Regions from separate parts of the Homo sapiens genome. Here regions 2 and 3 are each linked to region 1. The links come from fine-mapping of genetic effects on gene expression. A gene starts in region 1. Each other region holds a variant in brackets. All regions are shown on one strand. Distances are from middle to middle.

The links.
Region 2: its variant is fine-mapped to the expression of RHOD in whole blood (Lepik 2017, PIP 0.95).
Region 3: its variant is fine-mapped to the expression of RHOD in minor salivary gland (GTEx, PIP above 0.99).

Annotation. Positions count from the first base shown.
Region 1 is chr11:67,051,548-67,061,698 of GRCh38, forward strand. It overlaps RHOD (ras homolog family member D), which reads left to right and starts at 5,300. Exons shown (of 5, transcript NM_014578.4): 1 at 5,300-5,487. The coding sequence starts at 5,356. RefSeq lists an enhancer at 2,270-2,379 and silencers at 5,199-5,358, 5,369-5,438.
Region 2 is chr11:67,348,802-67,358,952 of GRCh38, forward strand. It overlaps POLD4 (DNA polymerase delta 4, accessory subunit), which reads right to left and starts at 4,745. Exons shown (of 4, transcript NM_021173.5): 1 at 4,502-4,745; 2 at 4,187-4,276; 3 at 3,890-4,001; 4 at 1,971-3,218. The coding sequence starts at 4,598. The coding sequence ends at 3,194. The region is part of intron 2 of LOC100130987 (a long non-coding RNA gene); the gene reads left to right. RefSeq lists enhancers at 3,425-4,007, 4,008-4,589, 4,583-4,632 and a silencer at 4,813-5,062. The variant G/A (reference allele first, on the strand shown) is at 4,947.
Region 3 is chr11:67,916,858-67,927,008 of GRCh38, forward strand. All of the region lies in intron 3 of LOC112268076 (translation initiation factor IF-2-like), which reads right to left. It also overlaps the pseudogene RPS3AP40. Among named protein-coding and RNA genes, the nearest start is that of LINC02754, 38 kb to the left of the region's middle. The variant T/G (reference allele first, on the strand shown) is at 5,133.

The sequences.
Region 1 (10,151 bases):
TGAGCAGGGTGGGAAGAAGAGAGCCAAGGGGGAGTTCTGAAGGGTAGAAGGGCCTTCCACATTCAGCGAGTGCTGGTGTTCAGCCTGCAACACTTCAAAGTAAGTGCTGCTGCTATCCCCTTTTTTGCAGATGTGGAAAAGAGCTCAGAGAGGTTAGGTAACTAGCCCAAGGCCACACAGCCAGAAAGTCACAGAGCTGGGACTCAAGCTCGGCCTGTCTTTGCTACAGAGCCAGTGCTCTGGATCACTCAGCAACAACGCCCCCTTCCCCAGCTCCTTGAATGTAAGGCTGAGGGCATAAGAGAAACCCCCGCTGGGTCCCAGGCTGCTGCCTTCCCCTCCCCACCCCTGGAAGATCAGAAGCGTGGGACATCAAGCATGGATAAGGATGAGCTGATGGAGAATTCCCAGCAGCTCCTGGGAGGCCTGTCCACCACAGGGACTGACTCCGAAGAGCTTCTGAGGCAACCAATGAGACGGGCTGTGGCAGGAGCCGGTAAGAGGGGCAGAGACCAGGGAGGGCTTCCTGGAGGAGGTAGAAGCATGAGAGCTGGCTTTGCAGCAGGGGGACTGTACACATGGAGGAGGGAGAGGGGTCTCAAACTGCCTGAGCAAAGGTGTCACAGTGTCTGGGGAGACACAGCTGGGCTGAGGCTTGAGAGGCCAGGTGGGGTTGGGCTGTGGAGGCTGTGTGTCCAAGCTCAGGGAGAAGCTCCTTATCCTGCTGGCAGTGGGGAGCCATGGTGGGGTCTTGAGCAGGAGCAGGTCCAAGGGAGGGAGGGGTCACTCTAAGCAGCTTTGGAGGTGACACAGAGGGACATCAGTGAATGTTACCCTCGCCAGTGAGTGGCAGGAGGGGCAGGCAGGAGGCCTCTGAGCTGCCTTTAGGTTTGGGTTCATTCAGCAGGACTCAAACTGAGGTGCCATCCTGGAGAGAAGCTGGGACAACCCAGGCTCTGAGAAGCTGTCTTGCCTCCTTCTTCTCTCTTGTAATCTTCCCAACCTATTTCCCTCCTTTCTCAGGCCACCCCACATCCAGGGTCCCATCCCTCCCCACCCCTTCATCTCCCCTCCTCCAGCCCTGGGCCCAAGGACACACCTCCAGGGTCCCAGGCCCCCTCTGTCTGGGAGCCCCACCGAAGAGGACAGGTGTGGAGGTCTCTGACCTGCCCAGCAGCATTGCCTGGGCTAGGCCTGCATGTGGGAGAAGCAGAGCAAGCCACTGCATCACGGTCGGCAGCAGCTCTAAGCTCCAAACTTCCCTTCCTCTCTTCTATCTGTCTGTGCCTGCAGACCCCCAAAAGGGACAAATCAAAAGGCTTAATAAGCACCAGGATGGGGCCACCAGACCTCCTCTCTCTCCACCCCTCCCACCCTATTATCAGCCCTTCCGTCCCAACCTGAAAGATCAATAATGGTTTGGCAGGGAGAGGAGGCCAGGGCAGGAGGGCACGTCCCCGTGGCCTGGGGCTCCAGTTAGATGGCAGCCAGGCTGGAGCTGTCTGGGCAGGCTAGACAAAAAGAAACTTGGGAGCAGAGGCCCTCTGGTTTCCACCTGGCGTAAAGCTGAGTCTGCTGCTCACTTGCTGTGTAAGTTCCTTCCCTTCTCAGGCCTCAGTTTCCCCATCTGAAGAATGGGGGTGTTGGATAAGATGGCCTCTAAAGAGCCCTGTACCTCTGACTTTTGGACATTCTGTGTGTATGGACTCCGGAGCCCAAGGGCCTGGGTCCAAATCCCAGCTTCTCTGCTTACTAGCTGCGGGACCTTGGGCAAATTATCCAACCTCTTTGGGCCTCAGTTTCCTCACTTGTCAAAGGAGGATAAGAATTGAACATACTTCATAGGATGGCATGAAATGACATGTGCCAAGTGTCCGGCACAGGTAGGTGCTCAGTAAATGCGAGGTCAAGGCTTTGGGTGGAGGAGTTCAGGCTGAGGGCAAAGGCTCTTAGGATCCAGTATTTCAGATGAATGTGGGCCAGGGACGGGCGCGGTGGTTCACGCCTATAATCCCAGCACTATGGGAGGCCGAGGCGGGTGGATCACCTGAGGTCAGGAGCTTGAGACTAGCCTGGCCAACATGGTGAAACCCCGTCTCCACTAAAAATACAAAAATTAGCTGGGCGTGGTGGCAGGTGCCTCTAATCCCAGCTACTCAGGAGGCTAAGACAGGAGAATCGCCTGAACCCGGAAGGCGGAGGTTGCAGTGAGCCGAGATCACATCACTGCACTCCATCCTGGGCAAGACTCCCCATGGAAAAAAAAAAAAAAAGAGCAGAGGACAGGGGATGCACGCGGAACCAAGAGCTTCGGGAGCTACACACCAGGGCCCGTGCACCCTGCCAAGCCACTCCAAGGGGAAAGACTGTATCTCTCCCCTTCATTCAGCCATCCACAAACACCCCACACCCCCAAGCCAGGAACCCCAAGCAGGGAGGCAGCCCCAGGTGATGACTGTGCAGGGAGCTGAGCGACCACATGAGGGCAGTGGAGACTCGATCAGGACCGCATAGGATTTGGCCTTAGGATGGGGGTGGGATGTGAGAAAATGGGGAGAGGGGTGAGGCCAGGGGGCCTTGGAGTAGGCGGAGGCTGGAGAGTGGTTGCCTGTCCACAGACTCCCCATTCATGTCACATGTGGTATTCGTCATCCATGCAAGTATTTGTTCCTTTATTCATTTCTTCAGTTTGTTTATTCTTCTAAGCCAGCCCCTCTGCCGTCCATCCTTCCGTCTTTCCTTCCTCTCTTTCTCACTCTGTTTTTTTCTTTCTTGTCCCTTTGGTTTGTCTGGCCAGGAGATCAACTGGGCATACCGTCCTGAGCCACAGCTGGGTGCCAGCCTGAGAGAGGCACTCCTCTAGGGGATACGGTGAGCCTTGGCCCCTGCCCTTGAAGGGTTCAGGGCAGTAGGCCACGGTGCTGGGCTCCCCACAGATCTGGGCCTGGGGTTGGTGGGGCCTCGAGGGGCCTAAGTCTCCCACAGGCTGCAAGTCCTGAGAAGCCTCAGTAAACACTAAAACAGTAAACAGTACCCTGGCCAGGCAGACTGTGTGACCTGGGCCACCACTCTAAAAATAAATTCCAGGAAAACAGTATGGTCCCAGGTCCAGCAATGTCTGAGATTCAGGGACATTCCCTGCCAACCAGAGCCGATTTCTGTGGCCTGGTGACTAAGCTCCCTCTCGCAGGAGCGTAAGCATGGTGGGGGAGCGGAGGCTGGGGCTTGACGTCAGGAGATTGAATCCTTGCTGTGTCCTGCTGGTCTAAGACACCCCTCTGCCTCTCTCTGAGGCTCAGTTCCCAAATCTGTAAAATGGGAGGAAGCAGGTCATCTGCTTGGTCTACCTCGTGGTCTGAGAGCTAAATGAAATTGCAATTGTGCAGATGAGGCGTGATGGAGGGAGACCACCTGGCTTTGGGGTCACGCCTGGATCCAAATTCTAGTTCAGCCTCTTACTAGCTGTGGATGTTAGTCAACAACTTAGCCTCTCTGGGCCTCAGGCTCCTCATCTGTGAAATGGAGCTAAGAGTCCCTACCTCCTAGGGAACAGTGCCTACACGTGGCTTGCAATCCACTAATGGGTGTTGTTATTATTAGGAAATGTTCAGTGAAACTGTATAGCATGACAAACATCAAGTGTGTCATTACAGAGATTATCCCTATAGCAACCAAGGCCAAACGCCTCTGCCTGACTCTCAGCTCCCTCCACCCCCAGTCTGGCCCCACCTGCCTTCCAGCCTTGCCACCCAAGGCCTGACGACAGCAGCAGTTGGGAGGAAGATGCTGACAGCTGATCCGAGGGGGTGGGGCCCCTCTCACCACTCCTTGGGGCGGGGAGCCCTGCTCTGGAGCTACCTGCCCAGCCCAGTGTCAAGTCACTGCCGAGCCCTGTGGCAGTTTCGGGGAGGAAGGGGCACCTGGAAAGGCAGAGCTGTGCTGGGGAGGATCCTTCCCTCCAAGTGGGGCTCCATCCAGCCTGCAGACCACAGCCCGGAGCGGGAGCCGGGCAGAGGAGTCAAGGAGCTGGGCTCTGCCTCTCCACCTAGTGACTCCTGCCCTGGCTGCCTCTTTAGACCACAGTGAGTTTAAAGGAGGTTGAAGGTGCTTTTTCACCTGCCTGACTTGGAACTCCATGAGGGGGGATGTCATGACCAGCATAAATTAGGGGGAACCTAATGACGTCTGCCCCTTGTTCTTTTAAGCTTCAATAGAAACACTCAGTCCAAGATCTGGGAAGACCCTTGTGCCCATTTTTAAAAGATTTCAACTCTGGCCATTAGGAGAAGTGGAGAGATCAGGTGACAATGAGTTCCCAGTTCAATGCTGGATTTACTGCTGGCATCCAACGTGCTCCACTGAGCAAGCACCAGCTCCTCATGCTGCACCACTGTGCAAGCGAGCCTCACCCTCTGCGGGGGCGGGGTGGGGGGGCAGCATTCCGCTCCGGCCTCCGCAGCTTCGCACGTGCCGCTGTCTCCGGTGGAACACCTTTTCCCTCCCCCATCTGACTGTGTTTCACTTTTTCCTCAAGACTCTGAAAGGTTTCCTGACTCCCTCAACGTGGGCGAGGAGCTCTTTTCCCCTACTCCCGTCCCGCTGCCTGTCCCTACTCCCGTTGTAGTTCTGATCACACTGATGTCCTGCGTGTCTACCATTCTAAGCCGTGGGCTTCTCAAGGCAGGGCCTGGATTTTGTCTTAAACAGTTCAGGGTCCCCGGGCCCTTGGGCACCAGGGGGACATCTCATGGTGCAATAATAAGAAACACTCACACTTTACAGAGGGAAGGTTCTATCGCTTTCCCTAGATCGTGGCCAGCCACGGTGTCAGGTGGCTGCCCACCTGCAGCAGAGCTTCCTGGTGCTGCGGGAGGGGGCAGGCCAGGCCTGGTGGGGCCAGTGAAGGGGGTCATCCCCTTCCCACCTGGCATGAAACGCCTGTGTTGTGCTGCGTCCTGAGACCCCTGGGGAAATGCACCATTCATTCATTCATTCATTCATTCACTAAAGGTCACTGGCTCCTGCCTGGGATCTGGGACCCAGCCCCTGAGCACACCCCCGCCCCCACTGTCATGGTCCCGCTGTTTGTCTTCTCCCTTCCGACCTCCCGTGGCCCCAGCGCGGCCAGCTCACAGTAGGTGCTCGGGCAGCGTTTCTTCAGGGACCTAGACGGCCTGGAGAGGAAGGGCCCCAGCCCAGCCGCCCGGGCCTCTCACCTGGCTCTCGGGGCGCCCGGCTCGCACTTCCTCCCGCCGCCCCGCCCCTTCCACATTCCTGCCCCGCCGGGCCTGCCCCGCGCAGTCTGGGTCTCTGCGCCGCAGCCGCCCGCCCGCCCGCTCAGCGCCCGGCCCCGGGATGACGGCGGCCCAGGCCGCGGGTGAGGAGGCGCCACCAGGCGTGCGGTCCGTCAAGGTGGTCCTGGTGGGCGACGGCGGCTGCGGGAAGACGTCGCTGCTGATGGTCTTCGCCGATGGGGCCTTCCCCGAGGTGAGTGCCCCGCGCCTCCGCCTCGCCCGGTTCCGCTCGCGCGCCCGGGTGTACAGGTCCGTGCCGGAGCGGCCCAGGCTGTGCGCCTAACCCGGCCTCCGAGGGGTGTCCCAGCGGGGCCTGGGGTCCAGGGCAGAGTTCTTCCGCCCCAGCCATTGGGAATGAAGGCCTCAGTGATGTTATCTGTAAAGCCGGAGGAATGGCATCCACCGGGGAGAGGTGTCACAAGGACTGAGTGAGGCGACCTGGGTGCACACAAGATCCTAAGACAGCACTTGGCCACACAATTCCGCTGAGGGCCTGAGAGCTTGGAAGCCAGACTGCCGAGGTTCAAATTATGGCTTTGCCTCTTATAGCTGTGTGCCCTTGGGTAAGTCCCCTAACCCTGCTGTGCCTGTGTCCCTCACTACATCACAGGTGAGTGACAGTGCCCACCACACAGGGTCACTGTGACAGAGAGTTAATAGACCTCAAGCACTCAGCCCCGGCCTGTGCACAGGAAGGACTCACGGAGAGTTGGCACATGTCGCTCCTGGGAAACATTGTCTCCCTTCCAGCTCTTGCCGCTGGAAAGCACATGCCATGGGCTCTGCCTTGGAGGGTGGGAGCACGCCAGCTGTAGCCTCAGCTGCTGGGCCCGCGTCTCTGCTCTCCTCTGAGCCCCGTGCCCTTTTGTAACCTGCTTAGCTTCTCTGAGCCTCAGTTTCCTCACAACAACCCCATGGGGTAGAGGGACTGTAGGGCAGTGGTGAAGTGGAGCCCAGGGGAGGCTGACAGGCAGCTCCCGTGCGGTAGCTGGCATGTCCTTGGCGCTGTAGGCATGCCCACCGTTAATCCTTCCTGACATGCTCACTGACTGCCCAGGCAGACTCCACGGGCACCAGGCGGCCCCTGCTCTGCCGCCTCTCAGCCCTGTTGTCCTGGGAGTCCATGGAGTTGCTTCCAGCATCTCTTCTTTTTTTTTATTTTTATTTTTTTTGAGAAGAGTCTCACTCTGTCACCCAGGCTGGAGTGATATTGGCACAATCTCAGCTCACTGCAACCTCCGCCTCCTGGGTTCAAGCGATTCTCTTGCCTCAGCCTCCTAAGTAGCTGGGATTACAGGCGCCCACCACCACGCCTAGCTAATTTTTAAAATTATTTTATTTTATTTTATTTTTGAGACGGAGTCTCGCTCTGTCGCCAGGTTAGAGTGCAGTGGCACAATCTCGGCTCACTGTAACCTCTGCCTCCCAGGTTCAAGCGATTCTCCCGCCTCAGCCTCCCGAGTAGCTGGGACTACAGGCGCGTGCCACCGTGCCCAGCTAATTTTTGTATATTTTTAGTAGAGACAGGGTTTCGCCATGTTGGCCAGAATGGTCTCGATCATTTGACCTGGTGATCCGCCCACCTTGGCCTCCCAAAATGCTGGGATTACAGGTGTGAGCCACCACACCCAGCCAATTTTTTTATTTTTAGTAGAGATGGAGTTTTGCCATGTTGGTCAGGCTGGTCTCGAACTCCTGGCCTCAAGCGATCTGCCCGCCTCGGCCTCCCAAAGTGCTAGGATTACTGGCCTGAGCCACCGCAACTGGCATTCTTCCTCCTTTTCTTCCCAGCATCCTCTAAGCCCCTGGGGTTGTATAGGTGCTGGAGCATCTGAGCACAAGCAGGACGGTCGGGCCTACCCCAGTTCTTATCACACTGTAGTTCTTATCAGGATGATATCTGTCTGCCTGTCTCCCACCCTTGGCCCATGTGCTTTCTGCTGCAGTGGCATTGAGCCACTTTTGTTTAGTAGCTTGCGGAGCTGGTGTCACCTCCTTTGACCAGTCATACATTTTTTTAAGTTGGGGGAAACATGTTTCTGGGCCCCTAGATGCTGCCCATGGGAACCCAACAATGAGGGCACCCGGGGAAGAGCACCACACAGGGACAGGTGGCCCAGGCCCAGGGGAAGGCACCTGATGGGCGGGGGCTGGAGGGCTGATGCCTCACCACCAGCTCTGAGATGTCCTTGATGGTGAGACCATCCCAACTTCAGAGGAGTTATGACGTGGAAATGGGCCTCTTCCAGTTGATAAGATGTGAATGCTTTGAGGGACATGCTGGGGCTGGCCAGAAATGGGGGGAGGGCATGCTTATCACCAGGAAAATGGGCTGGATTTGTCCAGGCTCCTCCCGTCTGGGGGCTCTGAGTTCCCTGGAGCAGGAGAGTCCTCTTCATTTAAAGAACCCACAATGGGCCGGGCGTAATGGCCCACACCTGTAATCCCAGCTCTCTGGGAGGCCAAGGTGGGTGGATCACCTGAGGTCAGGAATTCAAGACCAGCCTGGCCAACATGGTGAAACCCCATGTCTACCGAAAATACAAAAAAAATTACCCGGGCATAGTGGCAGGCGCCTGTAATCCCAGCTACTCGGGAAGCTGAGGCAGGAGAATCGCTTGAACTCAGGAGGTGGAGGTTGCAGTGAACCGAGATCGCGCCATTGCACTCCAGCTCGGGGACAACAGAGCGAGACTCCGTCTCAAAATATATATAAATATATATATATATATGTAATTAAATAAATTAATTAAAAGAACCCACAACGTGTAAGAGTTGGAAAGGCTTCATTTTGCAGATGGGAAAACTGAGTCCAGAACCCAGAGGCTTACCTGGGGGCACATGGCCCGGCAGTGGCAGCACTGATCTAGAGCCCAGGTCTTCCCCCTCCCGACCAGGGCCTTCTCCACAGCCCCCAGTGCTCTGCCTGCTGGACCCAGCCTCCTCCTGCCCCTGTCCCTAGCACCAGACTCTTCCTCTAGGCAGCCCTCGAAGCCCAAGGGGCCAGCAGCCAGGAGGCTGGAGTCCCATCTCCCAGACTTCCTGCACACAGCAAAGGGCTGAGAGCAGCCTGAGGATTTGGAGGGACCTCAGTGACCCTCATCTGGCTGTGACCCAACCCTGGATTCAGGGCAGCAGGGGAGGGCAAGGTGGAGAGAGCTCCTAGGACAGGGGGAAGCCCCAGGCTGGGGTGCCAGCCTCTGCCCAGTCCTGGCTGGCATTTGTGGCTGCAACCATTCCCACAGGTTCAAAGCCTAGCAGCCCCCACACCAGCATGGGGATAGGAGGTGGCAGGGAGCACCCGGCCCTGCTGGCTAGAGCCCCCTGGGTCCTTCCTGGTTCGCACTTGGACTCCCATGGGTGTCCTAACCAGGGATGCCCCGACACTCCCTCTTGAGCCAGGTCCCCCATCTTGGTAATGATTCATTTTCTGTCTGTGAGCCCCTGGAGGGCAGACCTGAGCCTGAGTCATCTCCGTCCTGGTCCAGCACAGGCCCAGTCCTTCTTTTCTGGCTGAGGACGGCTTAACAGATAAAATTAGGTGCCATTGATCCCATGGACAGAGGGTGACCCTGCCTGGGGGTCAAAGAACAACACAACAAAAGGTACAGACAGAGTCTCTAGGATGACGTCCCGAGTGGGGGAAAGGGCTGTGACAGTTACAAGCCAGAGGGGAAACCCAGCCCCTTTCTGTCTCCGGGAACTGGAGTTGGTAACCTCAGGAAAGGCAGGTGGCTGAGGACAAGGCCTGGTCTCTGCAGCCACAAAGACCTGGCTCTGTCACTAGCCAGCTGTTCAGTGTGTCACCTTGAACAAGTCATTTCCTCTCTCTGGGCATCATCAGAAAGTGAAGGTTGTACTGACGTTCCGAGCTTGCAAGGATCGGAGATGGTGCCAGTACACAGCCACACACAGAAGATCCTTAGAGAATGGTGGGTGGTGGTGTCATTACCATGGGCATTTGCAAAGCACTGAAACATGTCTCCCAAGAGATTTCCAGCAGGCTGCCTTGCAGCTCAGATCAAGAAGGTGACTGAGTGGGTGGTCAAGCTGGGAGCTCAGATGCAAGGGCACCAGTGCCCTTCACAATGACAGGCCCCTACTCTAGGACAAAGGTCAGAAGCTGCGGAGGGGCTGGGTGTATTAGTCCATTTTCACATTGCTATAAAGAACTACCCGAGACTGGGTAATTTATAAAGAAAAGAGGTTTAATTGACTCACAGTTCTGCATGGCTGGGGAGGCCTCAGGAAACTTACAATCATTGTGGAAGGTGAAGTGGAAGCAAGGCACTTCTTATGTGGCAGCAGGAGAGAGAGAGAAGGGGGAAGCACCACACTTTTAAACCATCAGATCTCGTAAGAACTTCCTCACTATTGGCCAGGCGTGGTGGCTCACACCTGTAATCCCTGCTCTTTGGGAGGCCAAGGTGTGCAGATCACTTGAGGTCAGGAGGAGTCCAGCCTGGCCAACACTGTAAAACCCCATCTCTATTAAAAGTACAAAAATTAGGCTGGGTACGGTGGCTCACACCTGTAATCCCAGCACTTCGGGAGGCCGAGGCGGGTGGATCACCTGAGGTCGGAAGTTCGAGACCAGCCTGACCAACATGGAGAAACCCCATCTCTACTAAAAATACAAAATTAGCCGGGCGTGGTGGCACATGCCTGTAATCCCAGTTACTCAGGAGGCTGAGGCAGGAGAATCGCTTGAACCTGGGAGGCAGATGTTGTGGGGAGCTGAGATCGTGCCATTGCACTCCAACCTGGGCAACAAGAGCGAAACTCTGTCTCAAAAAAAAAAAAAAAAAATCAAACCCGGGAGGCGGACCTTGCAGTGAGCCGAGATCAGGCCACTGC
Region 2 (10,151 bases), 300 kb after region 1:
AAATATATCCCCCTACCTGAGGCTCCTCTCATATTCTCTGCCTCCCTTCCTGTCACAGTGCATGTGTCTACTGAAGGCCACCCTCTTCCTGTATCCTGGTTCCTGGCCCTCCTCACCCTCACAAAGATCTCACTCACACAACTGCCTCCTCATCTCCGGTAACCTCAGGTTCCCTCGCTACTGGATCTCTCAGATCACTTCTCTCTCTACACTCACTCTGGGGATCTCATCCACTGTTGGAGCTTTCAAGGCCATCTAAAAGATTCCCAAGTTTATATTTTAAACCTAGAATGCCTCAGAATCCGAGACTTACATATCCACTGCCTATACCCCATGTCCCTTTGGAAGTGGCACAGATACTTCAGCATGTCTAAGATGGAGCTCCAGATTCCTGCCCCACCCTTCCCACAAGTCTTCCCATCTTAGTAATGAGAACTCTGTCCTTCCAGTCGCCCAAACCAAAACCTTTGGAGTTATCCTTGGCTCCTCCCTCTTAAATCCCACAGTCGACCAATAGGCAAGTCCTGCCAGTCAGCTCTTCCTTAAAAATACAGAGCGTACCTGGCCACTTCTGAGCAGTCCACCTCCCCACGCTGGTCCAGATCACCCTCAGCTCTCATGAGGCCAACTTCAGTAGCCTCCTGAGTGGTTTTGCTACCTCTGTTTTCCCCAGCTCCACAATCTTGTTTTCCACCAACAGAGTAATGTTTTCGAAACATAAGCTTGACTCTGTCATTTATTGGCTTCAAGCCCTCCAGTATCCTCCCCTCTCACTCAGAATCAAATCCAGTTTCTTATCATGGCCCTAGGGACCAGCCCGCTGCCTGTCTGCCCTCAATTCCCACTACCCTTCCTCACTCCCTGGCCCCCAGCCTCACTGGCCTCCTCAGTGCCTTTCCTGGAGCAGGCTGGAAACACTCCTTCCTCAGGAAGCTTCTCCTTGTTGCTCCTTCTGCCTGGAACCCTCAGATGCAGACCTTGCTCCCTTCCTTCCTTCAAGTCTCTGCTCAAATGCCACCTTAGCAGAGGGCCTTCCCTGACCAGTCTCTCTAACATAGCGCCCCTGGCATCCTTGGACCCTTTCTGATCCCAACTCTGATTTTGCTTACTACTGACTGCTACCTGTCATAATTAACTTACGTGTTTGTTTTTGCCCATCTCCTGACCATTAGTAATACCCCAAGGGGACCTTTGGTGCCTGGCACATAGTGAGTGCTTAGCAGCTGGGCAGGAGGTATGGCATAGTCTGGAAGAGGTTAATGCAAGTGGCCCCTGGTCACTGCACTGCCTCTTGCCTGCTGTGTGCTTTTGGGCAACTTTACTTAACCTTTCTTAGTTTCAGTTCCCCCTCAGTAAAACCTACCTGGAAGGTTTTTTAGGAGGATTCGAGGTAATACATTTAAAGTACCTGAGACATGATCAGTGCTCAGACGGGGGCTACACAGGCCACTTAGCTGCCCTCTAGGCCTGTTTCCAAGAACTTACTAGTGCTGCCTCCATCTACCCCCAGGATAGAGGGCTGCCACAGTAGATGAAGGTAACACTATAGAAGCGGTTACTGACTCTATTCTCCATGTCATACCCTGACCCTGGGTCCCCTGGGCATTGTTTCTGGCTCCAGCCAGTTCTCCTCCATCCCCCAGCACCATCAGTTTCTTTTTTCTTTCTTTTTTTTTTTTTTTTTTTTGAGATGGAGTCTTGCTCAGTCGCCCAGGCTGGAGTGCAGTGGCGCGATCTCGGCTCACTGCAAGCTCCGCCTCCCGGGTTCACGCCATTCTCCTGCCTCAGCCTCCCAAGTAGCTGGGACTACAGGTGCCCGCCACCAGGCCTGGCTAAGTTTTTTTGTATTTTTAGTAGAGACGGGGTTTCACTATGTTAGCCAGGATGGTCTCGATCTCCTGACCTCCTGATCCACCTCCCTCGGCCTCCCAAAGTGCTGGGATTACGGGCGTGAGCCACTGCGCCCAGCCTTTATTTTGTATTTTTTTATTTTTTGAGACGGGGTCTCTCTCTGTCACCCAGGCTGGAGTGCAGTGATGCGGTCTCAGCTCACTGCCAGCTCTGCCTCCCGGGTTCACGCCATTCTCCTGCCTCAGCCTCCTGAGTAGCTGGGACTACACCTGGCTAATTTTTTGTATTTTTAGTAGAGATGGGGTTTCACCATGTTAGCCAGGATGGTCTCGATCTCTTGACCTCGTGATCCGCCCTCCTTGGCCTCCCAAAGTGCTGGGATTACAGGTGTGAGCCACCGCGCCCAGCCATCAGTTTCTTACCAAAGCCCCTCAGATGATGGTCATGTCTGAGCAGGTCCTGCAAGTTGAGACCCTCGCCAGCCCTGCTTTGGATCAAGGTGGCCCCCGATGTGGGAAGCCAGAGGTGCTTGCTGGGAATGTATAGATATGTTTGGACTTCATGAGCTATGGACCCCAGGGGTCCTTCTCTGGCAAAGCACCCATGTTTGTGAGGTGGGCACCGCTTAGCAAGGCAGGTGGCTGGCTAGTCAGGTAGGTTTTCCCTGGCTGCTCCAGAAGGTGAGTCATGAGTAGTTTCCCTGTGGGCCACCAGGGGGCACCAGAGGTCGCTCAGCTCTTCCGAGGACTTGATCCGTCTCAAGATGACTGTCTCCTCCCTCTTCGGCCTAGGACTTTCTTGAAGGAAAAGAGCTGTAGTGGTGCCTCTCTCATCTCCTAACTTGCTAGGGACTGCCAGTCAAAGCAGGGCCACAGTAAAGGACTGAAGGTCAGGATTCCAGGCTCAATATTCTTTATTGATAAGCATTAGTGAACCCCTTGCCCTGGGAGCTCAGCCAGTCCTGCTCTCAGATTCCTGGCCTTAGGTGGGAGAGCATCTTTTCCTCATGGATCAACTGTCCATGTCTGACTGTGCCTAACTTGCCAGATCATGGGTCAGGGAGACAGGCAGCAGGTATTGGAAGGTGATGGCCAGGTCCTTTTCCCCAGTGACCACTCTCCATCTAGAAGCACTCTGCTTCAGCTGCGCAGGCTCTTCCGGGGACTCTGGGAGCCTGCTGGTTAGATGGAGGAGTTGAGCCTCTGACACCTCCAGGTTCTGCCTGCCAAGGGTTCCTCCGCAGCCGGGCTGAGCTGAGCAGGAGCAATGGGCTCTCGCTTCTGTCCTGAGGTTCTTGGGTGGTGAGCAAGAGAGCTAAGGGCAGGAGGTCTTACGTGGTGCCTCATAGGGGATAGAGATGCCAGAGACTGTGGAAGATGGGGTGGGAGGGAGGGATACCCCAGAGAGAGAGAGAGAGAAACAGAGAATCAGTTGTTGAGTCCCTGGATCTGATTTCACCAGCTTATTCTTGGCCATGCCCATAGTCCTTGGGAAACCCCTCAGTTCTAAATAGATAGTTCCTTGGGTCCTGGGTGTACCTTTGCCCCCCACTAGCTTGTAGAGGTAAGAATTATTGGCCGGGTGTGGTGGCTCACGCCTGTAATCCCAGCACTTTGGGAGGCTGAGGTGGGTGGGATCACGAGGTCAGGAGATCAAGACCATCCTGGCTAACACGGTGAAACCCTGTCTCTACTAAAAATAGAAAAAATTAGCCGGGCGTGTTGGCGGGCGCCTGTAGTCCCAGCTACTTGGGAGGCTGAGACAGGAGAATGGCGTGAACCCGAGAGGCGGAGTTTGCAGTGAGCCGAGATCGCGCCACTGCACTCCAGCCTGGGCAACAGAGCAAGACTCTGTCTCAAAAAAAAAGAATTATTATAGTGGCGTGTCCTCCTGAGCCAGGCACCTCATAGAATCTTCTTGCCTGTTCAGCAAGGCCTTCCAACCCTCCATCCATTTCTCCCTCAGGTCAGGACAGCAGGGTGACAGTGCCTGGAGAAGGCCCTGGCTCCCCTGAAAGCCCTCCCGGCCTGTCTCTGACCTGCACTGGAAGCGGGGGTCTCCGGGGTGGGTCTTCAGCACCTGCCACACCTCTGGGGGAGGCTCCAAGCCCATCTGCTTGGCCCGACACCAGCGCTGCAGCCGTGTGATCCCTGCCAGGGTGGGAAGAAGACTCTGGAGACTTGTGGGGGGTGGGGTAGAGTCTGAGCTGGAGAATGTGTGTGTTGGGGGGAGACAGTTCCTGAGGGTCAGAGTCACGCAAGCGCTTGGGTGACTTCAGAGACGTGTGGGTGACTGGCTGGGAGAGGCGCCTCCGTGGGGCTGGGTGGGTTCTCACCGGTGCAGGGCCCGTACTGCCAGGCCAGGTCAAACTGCCTCAGCAGCTCCAGCTCCGCTTCCTCCTCGTCGCGGGGCTGGGGCTCCTCCCCTGCAATGACAGCTGCTCTTCAGTACGAGGTTGGCTTCAGTCTCCTGCCCCTCACCTCCCAGCCTTCCTCACCACCGCTTTGCCTCTGCCACCCCGCAGCTAGACCTGGTGTCGGGAGGGGAGGACAGGCCACCTTTCCCTTTCCATCGGCCCCTCCGCCCCTCTAGGGGCCTCCTCTAGGCCCCTCCGTGTCCACTCCTCCTGCCTCCCTCACACCTCAGAGACCTAGCTCGGGTGCCAGCTCCCCCTTGCTGTGCCCAGCGGGCCCCTCCCTCCTCTTCACAACCGGGTAGGAATCAGTGATGAGCCGCTTCCGGCCCATGGCGGCCACCCAGGCAGGCAGAGAAGGAGGCAACTGCGGGGAAGAGGAGAGACCGGCCAGTGGGCGCGAGAAAGACAGCTGCTGAGAGAGACAGACGGGGCCAGGCCAGCGGCGGGCAGACAAGATGACCCAGACAAACCGAGAGAGGAAGTCGCCGGGGTCCAGGGAGGGACGCCTCCCCCACCCCCAAAAGCACGCAAACAGGAAAGACTTCAGCCAATGGCAGGCCGCCTATGCGGGGCGGGGCCCTGGCGCTAGCCAATGGTAGGCAGTGTAGGGTGAGGGGCGGGGCGGTGCCTCAGCTGTGGGCCGCGGGAGGAGGGGCAGGCTGGGGCGGGGGACCTGTCG[G/A]GATGCCCCGACTTCACCACCTTCCCCGGCCCCCATTGGTCTGCTGTGGGTCCCGAGAGACTTCAGGAGAGTTATCTTCAGCCTCTCACTTCCCGTTTTCCCTTCCTAGGCAAATGTTCTTTTCAGCTTCGCTAATCCCCGTGGCCAGTTTGTAACTCCCTAGAGTCCAGCTGGAGCCTTCACTCGGTCCTTTGGCCCGCCCCGCCTTGTGGGGGCAGGTCTGGAGGTCTGAAGAGAGTTTGGGCTAATCCAGGCCCCTTCCCGGCTCCCACCCAACCCCCACTGGCCCCAGGAGACCTGGCTGGAGAAGCCCATGGGTTCTGAAACCTCCTTTCTCACAGTCTGTGCCCAAAGATGCTGCCCACTCTTAGTCCGAGTAAGTGTTTGCCGTTTTGACTCTCCTGGGGTCCCAAGTCGTGTCCGGCCCGCCCCACCAGTCAGGAAGATTCCATACTGAGTAGGAAGGCAGAGCAAGGGTCTGGTCCCCCCACCACAATGTGTTTGGATCCCTAGTTCTTCACTGGCAAAATCTGCCCTGTCTCTCACAATAATGTGAGTCTGAGCAGAAAATATTAATAATAAACCTAACACTCATTGCACGTACCATGTGCCAAGTACTGTTCTAAGCACTTTCCCACATGTTAATTAAAATAGATGTCAAAAAGTTTTTGAAAGTAGGAAGTATAGCTAAATGATTATCACTGCTGATAGTCACAGGCATTGTAGGGCCCCAATCAAACCACAGTCTCTCTTGCACCCCAGGAGCTCACTGTCACAAGGCAGACAGATGCACAGTTGTCAGTGAGAGGCTATAATTCCTACCAGAAGAGGGAAAGGGTGGGTCAGAGATTGGTTAGGACCACAGGGATGATTAGCATTGGAAGGCCTCCTGGAGGAGGTGGACTGCTGTAAACAATGTCTCTCAATTCTCCACCCATGACCTTTGTCCCTTGGGCTCCTGTCATCACTGACTCACCCATACTGCTGCCTCCCCCTCACCAACTTCCTGGCAGGAGGCAAAAGTACTGGCCAGTGGGAGTCTGGGAACCAGCACAGGGACCAGCCCAGCTCTAATCACCCTCCAGAGATCCCATCCGGTTCTTCCTTCCAGGGATACTGGGAGGGTGGGGCACAGACTCCTGGGCTGCTGCCTGCTCAGAGGCCTCTGCCTCCTCCTTTCCCTGCTCTGGGGTCTGGGTGTTCTGCACTGGAAGAGGGCTAAGCCACTGGTACACGTGGGCACAAGGGAGGAAGCTGCTCTGGAAAGGAGACCACCAGAGGGGAGGCAGAGGAGCAGGCCATGTCTTCAGGGTCCACGTCCTGCCTGGCTCTCCCCATCGGCGTCCTAGAGGAGGGAGCTTGTGGGGGCACTGCATGGAGCTGGAGGGCCCTTTCTGCTGTATTGTTTGGGCTGGGCCTAGTCTAATCCCCCCATCTGCCTTGCGGACTAAGTGGGGCCCACATTCAGGGAGACAGTGTCCCTGCGGAGTTAGTGATGGAAGCAGGGAGGCCCTGTCTACCAGGGCTGGGAAGGGCCTAGGTGCTGAGTCCAGTCAGGTGCTGAGCATGCTAGGTAGGGATGGCGTCTAGGCTCTGGGGGATTGACTACCCCTCCCCAGAGGGTCTTGGCAAGGGTTCCTGGGCTGTTTCCAGAGGTGTGTGGCACCCACCTCCTGAGTCCACCAAGCCCTGAGGGAGTAGGGAGCCATGGGTGGGGCAGACCCCTCCTCATTCCCAGTCCCTCCCACCCCTGAAAGCTGATAGCCGTGGGGCCCTGCCACCGCCCAGGGAGCGTGAAATGGGGTGTGCCGCTGGGCAGCCACAGTAGCTCCTACCACCGCCTGGGCCTATTGCCTTTTCTCCTTGGGCAGCCTCTGGCATCCTGAGCTGCTCTGTAGATGTTGGCTGGGCTGTCCCTGCCAGCTTCCCCAGCTTTGCCTGGCACAGGCCCCAACCCAGGCTGGAAGATGTCTCCCTCAGGCTTCAGCTACCCCCACACCCAAGAAAAAGATTCAGAGTGGTCAGCTCAAGTGCAGGCACCCTAGGCCTGGCTTTCTGCCTTGGAGTTGAGGGAACTCTCTGCAGGCAGCATTGCTGCTCTCTCTTAGATGGCAGTAGGGTGGAGCCCCTAGGAAAGAGTTGGCACCCAGGGATTTTGGAACCATCCCTGTCCAACTGGCATGCCCTGACTCAGCACCTGAATCCCTAAGGTGCGCTGAGGACTAGGCTGGACCTTGACCTTCCTGTCCTCAGGTCTTTTCCTTCTTTGCTGTCCAACCCCATCCACCTTCTGTACCTTCTTGCCTAGAACCCCTTCACCTACTCAGGCAGCATCCTGGCCTCATTCCCTAAACTGCTGTCTTGGAGCCTGTTCAGGCTTCAGACTGGATGGCCAGGCCAGAGTTCTGGGTTGGGTGCTGAGTTCTCTCTCCCTGGGGGAATGTCCTGAGACCCTTGTGTCAGCCCCGACACCCAGAGGCTGGTGATGAGACTAGTAGGAGTGACCTTTGCACCTCAGCCTGGTAACAATACCCAAGACCCTTGCTTCAGGGCCAAGCCCAGAGTCCTGGGGGTCCAGGAGAGAAAAGAACTGAAACAGGAACCCGGCACCTTCCCAGGGGCTGAGGCCCACCGCTGACTGCACTCAAGGGAAGGATTAGGTCTGGCTTAGCTCAGACAATGTGGTAGAATGGGGGCCTCAGCACTGCACCTGCATTCCCTTCCCCCACCTCACCATGAGGTTTGTGGGGAGAGCCAGGTAGAGCTGGGAAGCTGGAGGCAGGTGGAGAGAGGGGAGCAGCTGCCTGGGACCCAGTGGGCTGTGGGGTGGATCCAGCTCTTCTTCCCTCTCGCCAGTACCCCCCTTCCTCAGGCCCTTGGGCCCTGCCACCCACCCTGAGCTGAAAGTCAGTCCCACTCAGGAGATTCTGGGCAGCCAGAATACCCCTGGCCCCGGCCCCCAACATACTCACACACCGTGGGCCCCATTCCTCACCCTGTGGGCCAGAATTCTTTCAGGCAGTCCTTCCTAGTCCCTCACTGCCTTCCCAGACACTCCCTCTTCCCCTGGTCCAGGTTCTCTGGCCTAATGTGCTTCCATCGCAGCAGCTTGAGTGGAAAGGATGGGGTCTCTGGGTTTTTCTACCACTGCATCTTCTGTCCTGCTCCTACCACCCTCCACACCTTCTTCTCTAGTCACCTCCTCTTTCACCTTGGCCATCCAGGCTCTGGAGCAGTTCCGGGAAGACTTGAAAAGGGGCCTTCTGGCCATTACTCACCTTGGCCACCAGGTGTCAGACTTTGCCCAGCTGGGTGGGAGGAAGGTTCTAGTTAACCATTTCCACCCCATCAGTCTGGCCTCAGAGAGAGATCTGGGCAAGTTGGGGAGGAGCCTAGAGGTGACCACTGAACTGGCAAGGCTGAGGGACCCTGAAGGTTGAGACTGGGAAAAGGACTGGAACTCTGACTCTACAGCTTTCCCCCAGATCCCCCTCACTGCCACTGCCCCCACACCACCCCACTGACAAGGGCTTTGTCCCCTGCTGGGAAGTTCAGGAACGAGGCTGAGTCAGGGAGCTTGAGAATTGAAGGAACAAAGGCAGGGACAGTTGTAGCTCCACAGCAGAAGGGGAAGCTGAGAGGGAGCTGCCCATCGGAGTGCCCAGCCAGGACTGAGTCACTAGCCCTTGCCCTCTAGGTTAAGGGGAACAGAGGGCCTCCCTTTGCCCTTCCCCATTTAGGGTGGCTGTGGCAAGTGAGAGTGTGTGTGTGCATGTGTGTGTAAACTCAGTGCTTGAATGAGCCTCTCATATCATGAGGCGGCCTGTAAGTCTTGGACGGTAGGTCAGTCTTTGCAAAAGTGGAAAACTGGCAAGATCTGAGTATTGTGCCATCTCCCATCAGAGCCTCCTCTAGCCCCACTTCCCCCAGAGGTTGCCCCTGCCTCAAGTGATAGTTCTCCATTTTATGCTCATTCTTTCAAACATAGGTGTGTTTCTAAGCACTCAAGATGATGACAAGATTTCTAATCCTTACATTCTATCTGGAGATGATGGAGAGGAGGGTCTTCTCTTGCCCACTCTCCCGATCCTTGTGGGGACATGAGGAATACTAGAGATAACACACCCTCCACCCTTTGACATTGCAATGCCTTAGAGTCTCATGTTAGCCTCTGGGCCTCTGACTCTGAAGCCATTCTTAGGAGGTAGAACCTCGATAACCAACAAAACTCATTGGATCTCCTGAAGCAGCTCTGGATGGAAAACCAATGACTCACTCACAGAAAACGCCAGTGCCCTGTGATCTACCAGGTGCTCCCTGTGCTGTGGTGCTGGCATTTTCACAAGATGCCTGTGGGACACAGTGCCAAAACACAAACGAGCAGCTCACATCCCCTGTCACCATCATTAGGGGCTATTTGAGAGAGTTCAAGAACTCACACTCTGAAGTGCCCTCTCTGATGGTGCTCTCATCCCCCTCTCCCTCCACCACGCCACCGCCACTGTGGGAGCGTTCTGCGTCCTCAGCATGCAGGAACCCCAGCGCTCCCCATTCAGGATTCTTCTCCCAGCCTATTCCCCTCCTCTGTTTCCCTCCACTGACCACTCTTCCCTTACTGCCTGGCTCTGGCTCCCAGCCAATTTCCAGTAGTTTCCAGCAGCCTAGAATCCCCCTTGATTCTCTGCCATTCTTGCCTTGCCAATCCTCAGCCTTGGAAAATGCCCTCTTCTCCAGTCTGTCCCTCCCTCTGAAATGCTAAGGAATGTCACTGCCCATGGTGACAGGTCCACGGCAAAGGTGCCTGCTGATATCACCGGGTTCTATTTGGCTGCCCAGACACCCTTTGGCTCTCCTGTGGTTGTCTCCTTATTCCATTCTCTAAACCTCCCCATTTTTCTCCACCCGCCCCCTACTCACTCAGCAATAACATGTTTAGATCACTTCTATTTAACAACAACAACAACAAAACAAACAAAAGCCTTCTGTGATCTTGCTAACCTTTCTAGATGGTGTTTTTTTGTTTGTGTGTTTTTTGAGACAGTCTCGCTCTTGTCGCCCAGGCTGGAGTGCAGTGGTGGGATCTTGGCTCACTGCAGCCTCCACCTCCCAGGTTCAAGCGATTCTCCTGCCTTAGCCTCCTGAGTAGCTGGGATTATAGGCATGCACCACCAGGCCTGGCTAATTTTTATAGTTTTAGTAGAGATG
Region 3 (10,151 bases), 870 kb after region 1:
TCACACTTGTTAGAATGGCTATTATTAAAAAGACAAAGCACAACAAATGCTGGCAAGCATGTGAAGAGAAGAAAATTATCGTATATTGTTGGTGGGAATGTAAATTAGTACAGCCATTATGAAAAAAAGTACAGAGATTTCTCAAAAAACTAAGAACAGATCTACCATATGATCCAGCAATCCCACTCCTGGGTATATATCCAAAAAAAAGGATATCAGTCTATCAACGGGATATCTGTACCCCCATATATACTGCAGCACTATTTACAATAGCCAAGATATGGAATCAATCTAAGTGTCAATCAATGGATGAATGGATAAAGAAAATGGGAATATACGCACAATAGAATAGTATTCAGCCATAAAGAAGAATGAAATCCTGTCATTTTCAGCTAAATGGATGGAATTAAAGGTCATAAAGTTAGGTGAACTAGGCCATGCACAGAAAGAAAACTATTGCATGTTCTCACTTATATGAGCAGTTTATGCTCCTGGAAATCAAAGTGGGGGCCATGTTTCAGGTCAGCAGGGTCAGGGATAGAGACCGCAGTTATGGACTTGTGTGCCCTGGAGCTATATAAAATTGATATCATGGAGATAAAGAGTAGAATGATAGTTACCAGAGGCCGGGAATAGGAGGGGTTTGAAAAGAAGTTGATTAATGGGTATAAAAATATATAATAGAAGGAATAAGATCTAGTGTTCATTATCACAGAAAGTGACTACAACAATTTGTTGTATGTATATATTTTTTAAATTTCAATAGTTTTTAGGGAACAGGTGGTATTTTGTTACATGGATAAGATCCTTAGTGGTGATCTCTGAAATTTTGGCGTACCCATCACCAAAGCAGTTTACCCAATGTATAGTCTTTTATCTCTCACCCCCTCCCACCTTCCCCCTGAGCCCCCAAAGTCCACTGTTTCATTCTTGTGCCTTCGCATCATCATAGCTTAGCTCCCACTTACGAGTGAGAACATGCAATGTTTGGTTTTCCATTCCTGAGTTACTTCATTTAGAATAATGGTCTCCAACTCCATCCAGGTTCCTATGAATGCCATTATTTCATTCCTTTATAAGGCTAAGTAGTATTCTATGGTATATATACATATATATATATACACACATATATATACACATATATATATATATATACACACACACATATATATATACACATTTTCTTTATCCACTAATTGTTGATGGGCATTTGGGCTGATTCTATAGTTTTGCAACTGTGAATTTTGCTGCTGTAAACGTGTGCAAAAGTATCTTTTTCATATAATGACTTCTTTTCCTCTGGGTAGATACCTTGCAGTGGGATTGCTGGATCAAATGGTAGATCTACTTTTAGTTCTTTAAGGAATCTCCATACTGCTTTCCATAGTGGTGGTACTAGCTTACATTCCCACCATCAGTGTAAAAGCTTTCTTTCACCACGTCCGTGCCAACATCAATTTTTGCTTTTTTTGTTTTTGTTTTTGTTTTGGTTTTGAGATGGAGTCTCGCTCTGTCACCCAGGCTGGAGTACAGTGGTGCGATATCAGCTCACTGCAACCTCTGCCTCCCGGGTTCAAGCAATTCTCCTGCCTCAGTCTCCTGAGTAGCTGGGATTACAGGCAACTGCCACCATGCCTGGCTAATTTTTGTATTTTCAGTAGAGACTCGGTTTCACCATGTTGGTCAGGCTGGTCTCAAACTCCTGACCTCCTGATCCACCCACCTCAGCCTCCCAAAGTGCTGGGACTACAGGCGTGAGCCACCGCACCTGGCCCTATTTTTGTTTATTTTACACGTGGTATTGCATTGTGATTTTGATTTGCATTTCCCTGGTAATTAGTGATGTTGAGCACTTTTTCATGTGTTTGTTGGCCATTTGTATATCTTCTTTTGAGAATTGTCTATTCATGTCCTTGGCACGCTTTTTGATGGGATTATTTTTTTCTTGCTGATTAGAGTTCCCTGTAGATTCTGGACATTAGTCCTTTGTCAGATGCAGTTTGTGAAAATTTTCTCCCACTCTGTGGGTGATCTGCTTACTCTGCTGATTATTTCCTATGCTGTGCAGGAGGCTTTTAGTTTAATTAAGTCCCATCTATTTATCTTTGTTTCTATTGCATTTGCTTTTGGGTTCTTGGTCATGAACTGTTTGCCTAAGCAAACGTGTAGAAGCGTTTTCCAATGTTATCTTCTAGAATGTTTATGGTTTCAGACCTTAGATTTAAGTCTTTGATCCATCTTATGTTGATTTCTGTATAAGGTGAGAGATGAGGATCCAGTTTTATTCTTTTACATGTGGCTTGCCAATTATCCCAGCACTATTTGTTGTATAGGGTGTACTTTCCCTACTTTGTTTTTGTTTACTTTGTTGAAGATCAGTTGGGTGTTAAGTATTTGGCTTTATTTCTAGCTTCTCTACTCGGTCCCATTGGTCATGTGCCTATTTTTATACCAGCACCATGCTGTTTTGGTGACTATAGCCTTGTAATATAGTTTGAAGTTGGGTAATGTGATGCCTCTAGATTGGTTCTTTTTGCTTAGTTTTGCTTTGGCTGTGCAGACTCTTTTTTAGATCCAATTGAATTTTGGCATTTTTTTTTCCAGTTCTATAAAGAATGATGATGGTATATTGATAGGAATTGCATTGAATTTGTAGACTGCTTTTGGCAGTATGGTCGTTTTCACAATATTGAGTCTACCCATCCATGAGCATGGAATGTGTTTCCATTTCTTTGTGTCATCTATGATTTCTTTCAACAGTGTTTTGTAGTTTTCCTTGTAGGGGTCTTTCACCTCCTTGGTTAGGTATATTCCTAAGTATATTATTTTTACAGCTATTATAAAAGGGTTTGATTTGATTCTCAGCCTGGTAGATGTTGGTGTATAGCACTGCTACTGATTTGTGTACATAGATTTTGTATCCTGATAAATGGATTTATTGTATATTTCTAAATAGCAATAAGATTTGAAATATTCCCAACACAAAGAAATGATCAATGTTTGAGGTGATTAATATCCTAAAGACCCTGATTTGATCATTACACATTGCATGCATGTGCCAGAATCTCACATGGACCCCACAAATGTGTACAATTATTCTCTATCAAAAACATTTTTTTAAGAAACATGCAGGAATACACTGTACCTCTTCCTTGCTGTCTCTGGATATTGTCACATGAGGACTTGACATGCGGATTGTGGCAGCCTCTGTGACCAAGAGCAGAAGACAATAGCAGCATAGAAACCTCAAATGAAAAACCTAACATCTCAAGCTACTAATTTAGCCAACCTTGGCATCAGCTATCTCCGGTCTTAGTACATGAGGTGATAAGCCCCACTGTTCAAGTTGGGTGGCCATCAATTGCTGCACAATAGAAGTTAATGAGGCTTCTTCCTCCTGGAACCCCTACTAGACCCTGACATACCCATTCAGTCACAGGCAGAAAGGGAAGCAGAGGGTAAGGAGACCTGGCTGGCTGTGCCAGATGCAGATCTTACCTGTCCTGCTTAGAACATTCAAAGCTCAATTGGTTAAACAAAAAAAGGAAAAAGACAGTAAGGAGTATAACACTCCCCAGATGCAACTTAATCTAACACTCTATACTTTAAATTTTCTAAACATACATAGAAATCAGACCACTACTTCTGCAGAACATTTTACTGGTAAAAAGAACAGCCCACATGAGGGAAAACTGATTTGGTGGAAAGACAACAAAAACAAAACATGGGAAATAGGTAAGGTGATAACATGGGGGAGAGGTTTTGCTCGTGTTTCACCAGGAGAAAATCAGCTTCCTGTTTGGATACCCACTAGACGTTTGAAGTTCTACAATGAACCCATCAGAGATGCAAATGAAAGTGCCTCCGCAGAGACAGAAAACCCACAATCGAGCATCATCGACCCGCAGGGTGAACAAAATGGTGATATCAGAAGAACAGATAAAGTTACCATCCACCAAGAAAACAGCACATGTGGAGAGCCAGGGAGAAGAATAGAAAGAAAAAGAGACAGAGATCAGAGACAGACACAGAAAGTGAGATTGGGGAGAGAGATAGTGTAAAAGAGAGAGAGAGAGAGACCATAAGAGAAGGGAGACAAAGAGATAAAAGGTGCGAGTCAGTAGGTGAGGAGAAAGACTGAAAACTATGAGAAACAGCAACTAAGACACAAAGGAGGTGGGAGACTGCCCGGGTGCCGCAGCACCCACACCGTCCTCTTGCCCCCTGTCACTTGGGTTAAAACCACCGGAAATTCCACTATTGCAAATTTTATATTAATCCTTGTATGTCTGACTTTTCTATTGTTAGTCTACAGGTGTATCCAGCAGCTCCAGAGAGACAGCGACCAGGGAGAAGGGGCCATGATGATGGTGGTGGTTTTGTCAAAACGAAAAGGGGGATATGTAGGGGAAAGAAAGAGAGATCAGACTGTTACTGTGTCTACATAGAAAGGGAAGACATAAGAGACTCCATTTTGAAAAAGATCTGTACTTTAAGCAATTGCTTTGCTGAGATGTTGTTAATCTGTAGCTTTGCCCCAGCCACTTTGCCCCAACCACTTTGACCCAACCTGGAGCTGAAAAAACATGTGTCGTATGAAATCAAGGTTTAAGGGATGTAGGGCTGTGCAGGACGTGCCTTGTTAACAAGATGTTTCCAAGCAGTATACTTGGTAAAAGTCATCGCCATTCTCTAGTCTCAATAAACCAGGGGCACAATGCACTATGGAAAGCCGCAAGGAGCCCTGCCCTTGAAAGCTGGGTATTGTCCAAGGTTTCTCCCCATGTGATAGTCTGAAAAGTGGCCTCGTGGGATGAGAAAGACCTGACGGTCCCCCAGCCCGACACCCATAAAGGGTCTGTGCTGAGATGGGCTAGTCAAAGCGGAAAGCCTCTTGCAGTTGAGATAGAGGAAGGCCACTGTCTCCTGCCTGCCCCTGGGAACTGAATGTCTCGGTATAAAACCCGATTGTACATTTGTTCAATTCTGAGATGGGGGAAAAACCGCCCTATGGTGGGAGGTGAGACATGTTTGCAGCAATGCTGCCTTGTTATTCTTTACTCCACTGAGATGTTTGGGTGGAGAGAAACATCAATCTGGCTTACGCGCACGTCCAGTCATAGTACCTTCCC[T/G]TGAACTTCATTATGACATAGATTCTATTGCTCACATGTTTGTTGCTGACCTTCTCCTTATTATCACCCTGCCCTCCTACTACATTCCTTTTTGCTGAAATAATGAAGATAATAATCAATAAAAACTGAGGGAAATCAGAGACTGGTGCCAGTGCAGGTCCTTGGTATGCTGAGCGCCGGTCCCCTGGGCTCACTGTTGTTTCTCTATACTTTGTGTCTTATTTCTTTTTTGTCTCTCATCCCACCTGACTAGAAATACCCACAGGTGTGGAGGGGCAGGCCACCCCTTCATTATGAGATTACAGGCAAGAATAACCCCACCTGGCCACCTAACTCACTCTTGAGAGGCCAGAAGTGATGCTGGAATTTTCTTCCTCTGTGGTTTAAAAAGGGAAAATTAGGGAGAACACAAGGCATGAGCGATGCAGCAATGGATATGTCTATATGGAGCTTCTGTCTGCATCCAGTAGAAAATGCATTTCTAGGCATCAGGTTTAAGAGCGAAAACCTGGAGTCTTGTCTGTTAGCATTCTCCTTCCCCACAAACCAGAGAGGGAATACATTTTGCTCCAGCACATCCGGATGTAGGAAATGTCACATTCCTATTTCTGTAACTTCACTTAAATCTGCTCTGAGTCCCTGGATGCCTGGCAGGTGGAGAATTCAATCTTGTCGTTACCAGCATTGCTTTCCCTTCTCCATGGGCTTATGTAAGAATTCTGGGCTTACACACTGTTGGAAAGCCAGGTAGGAACTACTTCCCCCGAACTCTCCATTCTTCCAGCTGCTCATGATCCATCAGCCTTTTTTGGGCCATCTGCTATAACAAGACCCTCCTCACAGCATCATTCCACTGACCCACAGGCTCAGCCCCAGGGACCCTCACTGTAACAGGTCTCCACTATGCATAGGAACTCACAAAAACCTTCTCTTCATCTTGGCTTCCTCTGATATCCAGCCACTCCCCTCTTCTCACCTTAAACACAGATGGCAGCTCCTTCCCATCATTCCAACCCTTGGGGATTGTCCAGCCAAATTCTCTTCAGACACCAAAGCTTCACCCACCCTCTTCATGGAGATGATGCAAGGGCATCTGAGATCTTTGGAAGCCCAATTCTGGCCTCTCTTTGGGGTGGGCTGAGAGTGGGAACTAGACTCTCTTTTCCAAGTGCCATGTTTATCTTGTTCATCATTATATTATCTCCAATGCCTGGCACATAGTAGGCACTACAGACTGACACATAGTAGGTGCTATTAGTGTCTGTATAATGGGACTCTTGAGGTCGAAGCTATTAGCAGAAACCTACCAAGCAAAAGGATGGAAAACCGACCACCAAAAAAAAAAAAAAAAAAAAAAAAAAATGAAAACAATCATGGCTTTGAGCTCTAAACACACAAGGCACCAGCCCAAGTTTGGGCAATTTTAATACAACAGCCATTTTGCCTCCAAACAAACTGGCACTGGAAACCTCCGTCTGCCTCTTAAAGAGAACCAGTTTCTCTTTCTCTAAGTGGGCAGCATTTCTCCCCGGTGACAGTACCCAGCCCACTGCCACCAGCAAAGGACTGCAGCCAGGAGCCAAGAGCTTGATAGTTTAAAGAATATATTTTATAGGGAAAAACAAAGTAACATCCACATAAATCTGGAAGTACCACCACTTTCCAGAGGCCGAATCCCATTTGTGGAGTCTCTTGCGTGTCAAGCACCTTGCAGTCACCTCAACTACATACTTTTGGGATTCGTTGCAGAGACGAGTGAAGGTTATCTGCAAAACAAAGGAACTAGGGCTCAGAATTCCCCGAGCAATCCATGACAGAGGAGGTGAGTAGAAAAGGGAAGGGTGAAGTCAAAGAGAGAATTCAGTGAATTGGCCAACACCAAGCAAGGATCATGGGACCCTCTCCATGGCTCCACGTCTCAAATGAAGTCAATAAAACCCATCAATGCTTGGTGTAAGTGTTGTATGCTCCCGGAAATGAAAGCAGGGGCCACATTTCAGGTCAGCAGGGTCGGGGGTAGAGGCAAAGGTCATGGACTTGTGGGCCCTGGAGGATGGGATGATTCTGAGACATTGAATCCCTACACTGATCTCAGTAGAAATCTCAGGTAGGGCTTCAACATTCGTGGCCCAAGGACTCTGTGTGCCTGAGAGCAAAAGCCTTGGTGCATGTCCCGGCTCCATCAATCCCAACTGGGGCTTTGAACAAGTTACTTATTTTTTTAACTAACGTTATTTTAATTGACAAATCATAATTGTACACATTTATGTGATGTTTTGATATGTGTATACAATGTGGGATGATTAGATCAAACTAATTAACATGTCCATCCACTAATTTACTGACAATTTTTATGATGAGACATTTGAAATGTAGTCTCTTAGTTATTTTGAAAGATACATTATTATTGACTATAGTCACGCTGCTGTGCTATAGATTTCAAAACACATAATCCAGCAACCCAACTTCTGGGTATAGACAAAAAAAAATCGAAATCAATATGTCGAAGGGATCCCTACATTCCTATGTTCACTGCAGCACTATTCACAATACCCAAGATATAGAATCAACCTAAGTGTCCATCAGTGGATGAAAGGATAAAGAAAATGTACTATATACACACAACGGAATACTATTAACTCTTAAAAAAGAAAGAAATCCTGTCATTTTCAACAACATAGATGAACTTGAAAGACATTGTGTTAAGTGAAATAAGCCAGGCACAGAAAGACAGATACTGCATGATTTTATTATATGTGGAATCTAAAGAAGTTGAACTCACAGAAATAGAGAGTAGGACAGTGGTTATCAGGGGCTGGGGTGGAGGAAAGGTAGGGGATAGGAGACACTGCTCAAAGGGTACAAAGTTTCCAATACGAAGAATAAGTTTTGAACAAGCTAAACTCCTCTGAAAGCTCAGTTCCTCATCTGTAGAGCGGGGACACATCATTAACCTTCTAAGGATGTTGCTGTGAGAGTAAGAGATGATGTTCAGCACAATACCTAATGCACAGTCAGGTCTTCTTAAGCTTGAACCTGCATCGCCATGACCTCTACATCACAGGACAGAAAGGCTCACAGCCAGTGTCTCAGTTCCCAGTGAAAAGTGGATCCCAGACCAGGCTGAATAGCAGGATCCCTAGGGGATACTCCACCCTACTGAGTCAGAATCACCGGAGGTAGAGCCTGGGTATGTATGTATGTGCGCGTGTGTGTGTATGTATGTATGCATGTATGTATGTATGTATGCATGTATGTATGTATAAGAGACAGGGTCTTGCTCTGTAGTCCAGGCTAGAGTGCAGTGTCACAATCATAGCTCACTGCAGCCTCAAATTACTCCTGGCCTCAAGCCATCCTCCCATCTCAGCCTTCAGAGTAGCTGAGACTAAAGGCGCATGCCACCAGCCCAGATACTTTTTTTTTCCTTCTTTTTGGAGAGAGTCTCACTCTGTTGCCCAGGCTGGAGTGCAATGGTGTAATCTTGGCTCACTGCAACATCTGTTCTCGGGTTCAAGTAATTCTCATGCCTCAGCCTCCGGAGTAGCTAGGATTACAGGCATGCACCACCACACCAGGCTAATTTTGCTCTTTCATTGTTGTTTCTTGATTGTTTTTCACAAATAGGACTTCTTATTTGCTACTGTTTTAAGCCTGAACTTTAAACAGATTCTTGGACTGGTGGTTCATATCCATCAGCTCATTCAACTTTAGCATGTGTCTCGTCCCTAGTGGGTTTTCCAGAACTACTACCATCACCACGAAGCTCCATGCCTTTCAAACCCAGGGTTCTCCAGCATTTTTATTTTTCTAATGAAGACATCATGGAGAGGATAAATTGGCAAGCCTTTTCTACATCTTTTCCAATGTTGTCTGGAATCAATTTATTAACCACTTCTTTCAAGTCATTTGTCTGCACCTCTCAGGTCATGATTTCCATCATCTTCTTCTGGATTTGGCAGACTGTTGGTGCTAAGCATAAGAGGTCTTCAGTATCAGATTGTTGTGTTTTTTAGTAAAACCAACACAAAACATAAGAAAGAAGTAACCATCGGTAGTCTTGACATCAACATGAGCTTCGATCATTGTTGAACATTTTTCAACCTTGGAACATATTTTGTCACAGGTAAGACCCATGCCATAGAAGTTAGTCAGGCAATTTTTGCCCTGAACATCTTCAGTAATCAGCTTGAATTTTCTAAATGCAACTTCATCATTCTGCAAATCTGCAAGACTCATTTCAAACACAAGACCCTTGAGACCATCAGATGCAATTTGGGTTCCTTGGGTCCTGGTGACCAAGTCTTTCCAATATTTCTTATATTGAACATAGCAGGTGCTTTCACATCATACTGATCTTTCTTAGAGAATGGACCAATTACTTTCTTCTTAACTCCCTTTTTGCCACCTTTCATAAGGCACTTGTTCTTAACAACCGCCATGGTGCTGCTCAGAGTACCAAAAGGCTAAATTTTATATTTTTGGTAGAGAAGGGGTTTCACCATGTTGGCCAAGCTGGTCTTGAACTGATATCAGGTGATCTGCCCGCCTCAGCCTCCCAAAGTGCTGGGATTACAGGTGTGAGCCACTGCACCCAGCTGATATTTATTTTTTATTTTTTTGTAGAGACAGGGTCTTGCCATGTTGCCAAGGCTGGCCTGGAACTCCTGGCCTCAAGCAATCCTCCCACCGCAGCCTCCCAAAGCACTGGGATTTCAGGTGTGAGCCACCGTGCCCAGCCTGGAATCTATTTTTAAAGCCAATCAAGTGTTGAATAAAATTGCAACTTGGGCTGTTTTTTCTTCGCATTTTTTACATTTCAATGGTTTTTAATATATTCAGAGATATACGCAAACATTACCAGTCAATTTTAGAACATTTCATGACCTCAAAAAGAAACCTCATACCCTTTAGCTAACACCCCCTATCCTCTCATGCCCCTAGCAGCCCTAAGCAACCACTAATCGACTTCCTATTTCTATAGATTTCCATCTGAATGAAATCATGTAGAATGTGATC